2 linked regions of the Homo sapiens genome follow. The protein of the gene in region 1 purifies or fractionates together with the protein of each later gene. This does not show direct contact. Each region holds a gene or a part of one and is shown in the gene's direction. Other genes may lie near its edges.

What was found. The genes of interacting proteins can lie anywhere in the genome.
Region 2: the proteins of PIGF (region 1) and WDHD1 purify together in Homo sapiens (affinity purification with mass spectrometry; one large-scale study listed by BioGRID and IntAct). This does not show direct contact.

The regions. Positions count from the first base shown.
Region 1 is NC_000002.12:46,588,701-46,594,280, reverse strand, and holds part of PIGF (GPI ethanolamine phosphate transferase, stabilizing subunit), read left to right. Parts: exon of another isoform or gene 1-923; intron 924-1,697; coding exon 1,698-1,806; intron 1,807-2,355; coding exon of another isoform or gene 2,356-2,373; exon of another isoform or gene 2,374-3,134; intron 3,135-5,580.
Region 2 is NC_000014.9:55,020,600-55,024,099, reverse strand, and holds part of WDHD1 (WD repeat and HMG-box DNA-binding protein 1), read left to right. Parts: intron 1-3,500. UniProt on the Homo sapiens protein: Core replisome component that acts as a replication initiation factor. Binds directly to the CMG complex and functions as a hub to recruit additional proteins to the replication fork.

The DNA.
Region 1 (5,580 bases):
ATGTATTACAGTATAGAGGAGGTGTGTGTTAAGTTGAAGCTTAGTCATCATTGTCAGCCACATGTAGTCAAAAATTGGCCTAGGAAATCCTTTAAATTGCTAAAATAGTACAATTCCCTTTACATTGAACTTGGCCAGTTTTTCCTTCCAACATTGGAACACATCTCTGTTCTATTGAATGCTAGTTGAAAAAGCTGACTTATATTTATAGGTGTTACATGAAATAAAAAAGAATAATAAAGCCCTACAAATAGTACAAATTTGGATATATGTGATTGGCTCCAGCCCGTTCTTAGCCCTGCTTCTCAATGGAAACAAGCTAAGGCTCTTATCTTGTGTAGTTGGGGAGTATGAGATGGAGGATGATAGAGGGATTGGTTTGTGAACTGACTTGTCATCATTTGGGACTTTTAAAATTCAGTGTACATTTTGCGTGTAATAATTGGCCTGTTTCTAGTTAAATAAATCATCTAACAAAACAAATGTTTTCCCCCATACTATCTAGAAGAGGCTACTTTTCAATAACTTCACCTTGCAATTTAAACAATTGAATATTTGGACCCCACTTAGTGCATTGCAGTGGGCTTTTACCTGACTGTAACCAGACTCCTGTTCTACATGATGAAGTGTTCACCCTATGAGGGCCAGGCTGAAACTAACACCTACTAAGAGAATGGCAGAATTAAGTCTTTCCACCTTTACACTCTCAGATGTGCACTTAGTAAATAGGAACGGTAGGCAGAATCACCAGATCTTTTGAAATACTTTGTTCTTGTTCTCTGCCTGTTTCTTGCCAAGTAAATTGAATTGGTTTATATAAATGAAGTGTGCTGTAAGAAAGACTAGTTGAGGCCGGGTGCAGTGGCTCATGCCTATAATCCCAACACTTTGGGAGGCCAAGGTGGGTGGATCACAAGGTTAGGAGTTCGAGACCAGCCTGGCCAACACAGTGAAACCCCATCTCTACTAAAAGTACAAAAATTAGCTGGGCATGGTGGCACACACCTGTAATCCCAGCTACTCAGGAGTCTGAGGCAGGAGAATCGCTTGAACCCGGGAGGCTGAGGTTGCAGTGAGCCGAGATCGCTCCATTGCACTCCAGCCTGGACACAGAGTGAGACTCCGTCTGAAAAAAAAAAAAAAAAAGAAAGACTGGTTGAATAAATGATGCACCATCCATACAATGGAATACTGTTACAGCTGTTAACAAGGAAAAACAAGCAAAACTTGGTTTATAACATGATGCATCTGAGTTTTGTTTTGAAGAAATATACATATGTACATGTGTATTTATGCAAATGTACATATATCCTTCAAAACAAAATTATGTGTGTATTTGTGCCTGTATAAAATATTTCTGGAAGAATATGTAATAATTTAGCATAATAGCAGTTGCCTGTGGGGAAAGGAACCAGGAGTTGATGATAGGGGTGGAAGACTTAGCTGTTTCTACAAATGCTCTTTAACATGGTTTGACTCCTAGTGCGTCTGTATATTACCTTTCCAATGGAAAACATTTACATCTTCTTACCAATTAACTATTAATAGTTCATGGTAAATATGTATATGTCATTTTGAGATTTTCATTTTAAATTAGCAGGAAATATATGTATACTGATAATGTGTGCTAGTGCTTGTTGGATTCTCCAGCAGCTCATGTATATACCACCAACGATGTACCAATTTGTGTTTCACAGAGTTACATCCATATGGGAGAATAGTCTCCAGATCACTACAATTTCTAGCTTTGTAGGAGCATGGCTTGGAGCACTTCCTATTCCACTGGATTGGGAAAGACCATGGCAGGTTGGTTTCAGTTACTTAAAGCAACAAAATAAATGTTTGTACAATGATAGTAAAACAGATGAAGCAAACTAGTGTGTATATGTAAATTGTTTTGTTGTTCAATTAAGTAGGGATACCACTTCTATCAGTCACTGTAATCTGGGCAGCTTCTTAATGGGGACTGTCCAGTGCCACAGGTGTCTAGGTAGCCCTGGTTTTATCTTCTAGCACTATTTTTTGCACATGTGTAGATGAATAAACAAGCTTATTTTGTGATTGTATATAGGCGGTTTGTTTATTGTTTTTAAAAAAGACAGGTTCTCACTCTCTTGCCCAGGCTGTCCTCTAATGCTTGGGCCTAAACGATCTTCCTGCTTCAGCCTCCCAAGTGGCTGGGACTACAGGTGTGTGCCACCGAGCCCAGCCAGTATAGGAATTTTTAAAAACTAGGTTAATAGCTGCAGAAATTTCCTATTTTCAACTTTGATATTTATTGCCCTTGTGGTCTTATATTCATATTTTCTGAACTTGATTGATGGCCAAATTGAATGTTCCTCTTGAAATTTTTAGAAGCAGATAGCAAGGTAATTTTTGCAGCAGCGGCCTGTGTTATCAAGAAAGCTCACAAACATCAGATTTTTCGTCTTGTATCACAATAAGATAAAGCTGATATGCTAGGTAAAGCACTGTGAGGTAAGTGCTCTTTTTATACCCATTTTACAGATGAGGAAACTGACACCTAGAGGGTATGTAACATTCCCAAGGTCACTGAACTTACAGTGATGACTGTATCTTTATCTTAATATTAATGACTTTGTAGTATGCCATTATATACTTTATAACTTATTTAACAAATTCACTATTGATCATTTAGATTATTGCCAGTATTTTGTGATAATAAACACTGCTGTGATAAAATCTTTGAATCTATAGCTTCTTGAATTTTTCTAATTAGGTTCACAGAGTAATTACTCCCAAAAAGAATTATGGTATTAAAAAATAAATGTGCTTTCTTTTTCCAACATGAAGATAATTTTTTTCTGATCACGAAGATAATGTATATTTATTTAGAAAATTAAAGCAATATTAGTAATTCTAAGGAAGAAAGTAAAAATTACTTTCCTCCCCAACCACCCAGAGGAAACCTCCATTTGCTTTTGGTGATAATTTTTGCAGCTGTCTCTCTCCATGCCTGTAACTATAATATTCATGTTGTTTTTAATCTGCTTTTTCCCCTCAGCAGTATATTATGGAGCTCATTCTATGTCAATGAAAACTTACATATATGTAATATTCGATTATTTGTGTAAAATATTGTACCAGTTTTTTATTAAAGAACATTTAGGTCATTTCCTATTTTACTATTATTATTTTATTATCAAATATGGTCATTATCATACTTATACATCTTTGCATATTTGTCCAATTTTCTCTGTAGGGTAGAGTCCTACCTAATGAATTGATGAATTAAATCTTTGATACATACCTCATTTGCCAAATGTGGGATCCAGATTGTGTGCCTTGCACATAACTGCCTACATTTAGCTCTATTCTTTGTGCTTTCAGTTAGATGTCGTGTCTCCCCGAAAGTCAAATTGTTGTTTCATGTTTAATAGGTCTGATAGGTTTGCCCTTCCCTGTTTTAACTCTTCATCACTATATTAGAGAAATCCTTGGAGGTTTGGTGTGTGTATCGTCACAGATTCCCATCTCAAGTTTTTGGTGCTAGTAAAGGTTTCTTAAGTTGACATCTTATAGAAGTCATCCATACTTGATGTCATTCAACAGAGTGTCAGTGATTTCTAAATTGGAGGACAATCAAAATCATTGAAAAGTATACACAGAAAATTGAAACTGTGTAGATTCATTGCTATCAAGTAATGCAATTAAATCTAAATAGAAAGTATTGATAAATAAAGTACTATGGGACATTAGCTTTAATGAGTTGGTAAGATATAATAATCATTTTGTATATGATGCAATACATTAGAGTGTAAAGGTTTGATATATTACACATAATTTAAGTCTTTTCTGTTTACAAGACAGTGCAGTAGTAGAAACTGAACTAAGAGGAATGAATATATGTGCTTTATAAAATATGTGTTTAGGTTTGCTTAGAAAATATATATCTTAATTATTTACAGTTCAGTCACCCATTTTGGGATTGTTCAGGCTTTTAGCTGATGACCCATTTTTCTCCCTCAGTGCTTGTTAACAATAAGGATGAACTAGATCCAAATTGATGGTATTACTTTTTAAATTAATGTAAAGTTTCCATTTGAATTACTGACTTTTTAAAAAGATTTTCTAGGTAGCTGGAAATTAATTTAATTTTAAATCTAATTTAAATACATAACAAGTGTTGGTTTCCATTAAGAGTGTTTCATTCAGCTGGAATATTACTGGCCATGTAATTATCTTTACTATTGGGTTGTTTTTAGAATATTCCAAGTTAATGACCCACGTATTCACTGTAAACCTTTTAAATTATGAAATGTATTGTTGAGGGAATGATAGAATTGATGTATAATTAAAAATCTTTTATTCATATAGCACTCATCTGCTCCTTGCCCTTTTAGCAGTTATTTACTAATAAACTAAAGAAATGAGGTTTTTTTTTCACTTTTTATTTCCAGCAAACAAGGTTGTTTGTTTTTTTGTTATTGTTATTTTTTAATAATTCTAACTCCACAGAACAGCATCTCCCAGAGAAGCAATAAATCAGATAAGGGAATATGGCATTTTCTAAAAGTGGAGATGTTGTTAGAGCAAAATTTCATGAGAAGACAATACAGTATACACTTTATTATCTAAAATAGAACATGTATTAAGAGATTCTTGTTCTGTGTTCCTTGTAGCCCAATACCGATTTGATCTGCTTGTGGTAAAGCAAGCTTTTCTGGATTGTGTTCTGGTTTTATTTATATTCCAGTCAGAGAAACAGGAATATCTGGTTAAGCAATTGTACCTTTAAAAACACACACATGCACACACACACACAAAACCCCACAAAATCTACTACATGTTTTAATTCAGTTTTCTTTACTTTGAACTCAAACCATTGTATAACATTCCTGAGGCCAAGCATAAGATTATAGTGATGTGGATTCTGTAATGAGCTGTTTCAAGCATATTTTTATGTTTAAAATAATTTCTTCATTAAATGACTGGAAAGGCCCACTGAAAATATGTGATCTCAATGTAAAAGTTTTTTAACTTAATATAAATCTTAAGTGATTTTAAATAATGGCAAGTGATGAAAGATTAGGCATCTTTATAGTTGGAGGAAGCCTTTCTTTTGTAGAAGGCAGCAAGGGGATATGGTTAAAGAGAATATGGTAGGGTAGCTACCCATTATACTGTTGGTCATCTTTGTTGTTGTTTTAATACTTTAAAGTCATCTTCTTGCCTCTACCTTATTTGCCTTAAAATCTCAGCAAGAAAACAAATATTTGAATTTCCCATAATCCAGATAGGCTTTTTCAACTTCTAGAGAAAGCTTATAGTTGCTGACAAAATAAATATTTGGACTACAGAAAACCTTTGTATTTTATAATTTGATTCTTTATCTGCTGTAACTAAATAGCTAATCAATAAGTATTTGTTGTTATTACTGTATGCATAGCATATGTTCTGTGTAAGTAAGTACAACAGATACTTAAATACACCCAGGACTGGAATTTAATTATTTAATAATTTAGATTTGAACTGTGATTTAGATTTAATATGCTGTAACTATTTCATAGAATATGTAGCTATGAGGTTTTTCATCTGGAAAATGTCTTGTCAAAACAT
Region 2 (3,500 bases), on another chromosome or scaffold:
AATTTTTGGCAGTTTCTAACAATTTGAAAAAACTAGCAGACGAACCATGTAGCCTAGAAATATGGAAAAATTAAGAAAAAGTATGTCATGAGTGCATAAAATCTATGTAGATACTAGCGTATTTTATCATTTACTACCATAAAATATACACAAATCTATTATAAAAAGTTGAAATGTACTAAAATTTACACACTCAAACATTTCCAGACCATCCGCAGTCAAGAGAAATGTAAACAAACATAAAGATGCAGTGTTAAATCGTCACTACATAAAATTAACTGTAGTATATACTGTATTACTGTAATAATTTCATAGCCACCTCCTGTTGCTATTTCGGTAAGCTTAAGTGTTGTATCTGCTTAAAACACTGTATGAGGTTGTATCTGCTTAAAACACTGTATGATGCTCATGAGCAGTTTGTCTCTCCAGTAAATTGCCTATCCCAGTAAAAAGACATCTCTGGTGATTCTCATATATTTTTCATCATGTTTAGTCCAATGCCGTAAACTTTGAATAACACCATGGGAATCATATGAAGTGCCACTAGTGATGCTGGACATACTCCTAAGAAGCAGACAAAAGTCATGACATTAAGAGAGAAAAGTTGAATTGCCTGATAATGTACTGTAGATTGAGGTCTGCAGTTGCGGTTGCTCACAATTTCAAGATAAATGAATCCAGTGTAAGGACCACTGTGAAAAGGAAATTTGAGACACTGTTACTGCAGCTATGCCAGCAGGCATGAAAACCTTGCACTTTTTGTGAAATAACTTTATCTTGTATTGAAAACGCAGCTTTTATGTGGGTATAGGATTGCAATAGAAAGGCATAGCTATAGACTCTAATGTGGTTCCAGAAAAAGTGAAGTCATTATCTGACAACTTAAAGTGAAAGGTAGGTGAAGGATCTAAAGCTGGAAAGTTTAATACCAGCAGAGGATAGTTTGATAATATCAGAAAGAGATTTGGCTTCGAAAATGTCAAGATGGCCGGGTGTGATGGCTCACACCTGTAATCCCAGCATTTTGGGAGGCCGAGGTGGGTGGATCACCTGAGGTCAGAGCATGCCCAACGTGTTGAAACCCTGTCTCTACTAAAAATGCAAAAAATTAGCCAGGCACAGTGGCAGGCACCTGTAATCCCAGCTACTCAGGAGGCTGAAGCAGGAGAATCACTTGAACCCGGGAGGTGGAGGTTGCAGTGAGCCAAGATTATGCCATTGCACTCCAGCCTGGGGATCAAGAGCGAAACTCCATCTCAAAAAAAAAAAAAAAAAGAAAGAGAAAGGGTCAAGATGGCAATAGAATCAGCTTCTGCTGACCAAGAGACAGCAGATTCCCAGACACCATTACGAAAATCATTGAGGAGAAAGGACATCTGCCTGAACAGGTTTTTTGTTTGTTTGTTTGTTTTGTTTTTTTGAGATGGAGTCTAGCTGTCTCACCGGCTGGAGTGCAGTGGCGCGATCTTAGCTCACTGCAACCTCCGCCTCCTGGGTTCAAGCGATTTTTCTACCTCAGCCTCCCGAGTAGCTGGGATTACAGGCATACACCACCACACACAGCTAATTTTTATATTTTTAGTAGAGACGGGGTTTTGCCATGTTGGCCAGGCTGGTGAACAGGTTTTTAATGTAGACTAAAGTGCCCTATTCTGTGGGGGGAAAAATGCCACAAAGAACATTTATTAGTAAGGAAGGAAAGTGAGCACTAAGATTTAAGGCAGGAAGGCTAACTCTAATGTTTGGTGCAAATACAATCAGATTTGTGATCAGAACTGCCATTATTTATAAAGCTACTAACCCCCGGGCCTTGAAGGGAAAAGATAAACTCCAGTCTCTTAGTTGTATAACAAAAAGACCTAGACAATGAGAACCTTCTTTTCTGGATTGGTTTCACTGATGCTTTGTGCCTGAAGTCAGAAAGTATCTTGCTAGTAAGGGACTGCCTTTAAAATTCTTTTAATGTTGGGCAATGCCCCTGGCCACCCAGAACACCATAAGTTCAATACTGAAGGTGTCAAACTGGTATACTTGCCCCCAAACACAATGTCTCGAATTCAACCTCTAGATGAGGAGTTCATACAGGCCTTTACGGGCTCATTACATAAACTAATCTATGGAAAGGATTGTCATTGCTATGGAAGAGAACCCCAGTAGAGAGAACATCCTAAAAGTCTGGAAGGATTATACCATTGAAGATGCCATCATTGTTATAGAAAAAGCTCTGAAGGCCATCGAGCCCGAAACAAATTCCTGCTGGAGAAAACTGTGTCCAGACGTTGTGCATGACTTAAGATTGACAGCAGAGCCAGTCAAGGAAATCATGAAGGAGATTGTGGGTATGGCAAAAAAGATAAGGGAGCGAAGTAATTTCAAGATATAGACCTTGGAGACATTCAAGAGGTAGCAGACATGGCTGGGCGCGGTGGCTCACACCTGTAATCCCAGCACTTTGGGAGGCCCAGGCAGATGGATCACTTGAGGTCAGGAGTTTGAGATCAGCCTGGCCAACATGATGAGACCCCGGTCTCTACCAAAAACATAAAAAATTGGCTGGGTATGTTGGCATACGCCTGTAATCCCACACTCCACCTTCTCTCAGGAGGTGGAGGTTGCAGTGAGCCGAGATTGTGCCGCTGCACATTCCAGGCTGGCCAACAAAGCAAAACTCTGTCTCCAAAAAAAAAAAAAAGGAACGCTAATAGACACTAAACCGAAGAGTTAGCAGAAGACAATTTGATAGAAATGAGTTCTTCCTAACTACTGCCAAGTGATAAGGAAGAAGATGTAGAAGAAGTAGTGCCAGAAAACAAATTGACTTTAGGCAATCTGGCAGAAGGGTTCTGATTATTCAAGACTGCTTTTGACTTATTTTACAACATAGACCCTTCTATGTTATGAGCACTGAAACTAAAGGAAATGGTGGAAGAAGGATTGGTACTGTATAGAAACATTTTTAGAGAAATTAAAAAGGAAAAGAGTCAGACGGAAATTATGATGTGTTTTTATAAGGTCACACCAAGTATGCCTGCCTCTCCTGCCTCCTCCTCTACTTCCTCCCCCTCTTCCACCTCTGAGACAGTAAGACCAACTCCTCTTCGTGTTCCCCGTCAGCCTTCTCACTGTGAAGACGATAAGGATGAAGACCTTTATGATGATCTACTTCCACTTAATAAATAGTAAATATTTTTTCTCCTCTTTATGATTTTCCTGATATATTTTTTCTCTATATTGCTGTATTGTACAGATACAGTATATAATACATAGACAAAATATGTGTTAATTGTTTATGTTATCAGTAAGGCTTCTACTCAACAGTAGGCTGTTAGTAAAGTTTTAGGATAATCAAAACTTCTATGTGGATTTTTGACTGTTTAGGGGTTGGAACCTGTAATGCCCATGTTGTTCAAGGGTCACCTTTACATCTTTGGCTGATACCTTCCAGAGTTCAGGGTTGAGGTTCTGGCTAAGAATATAAATGTGAGAATTGTCCTTATAAA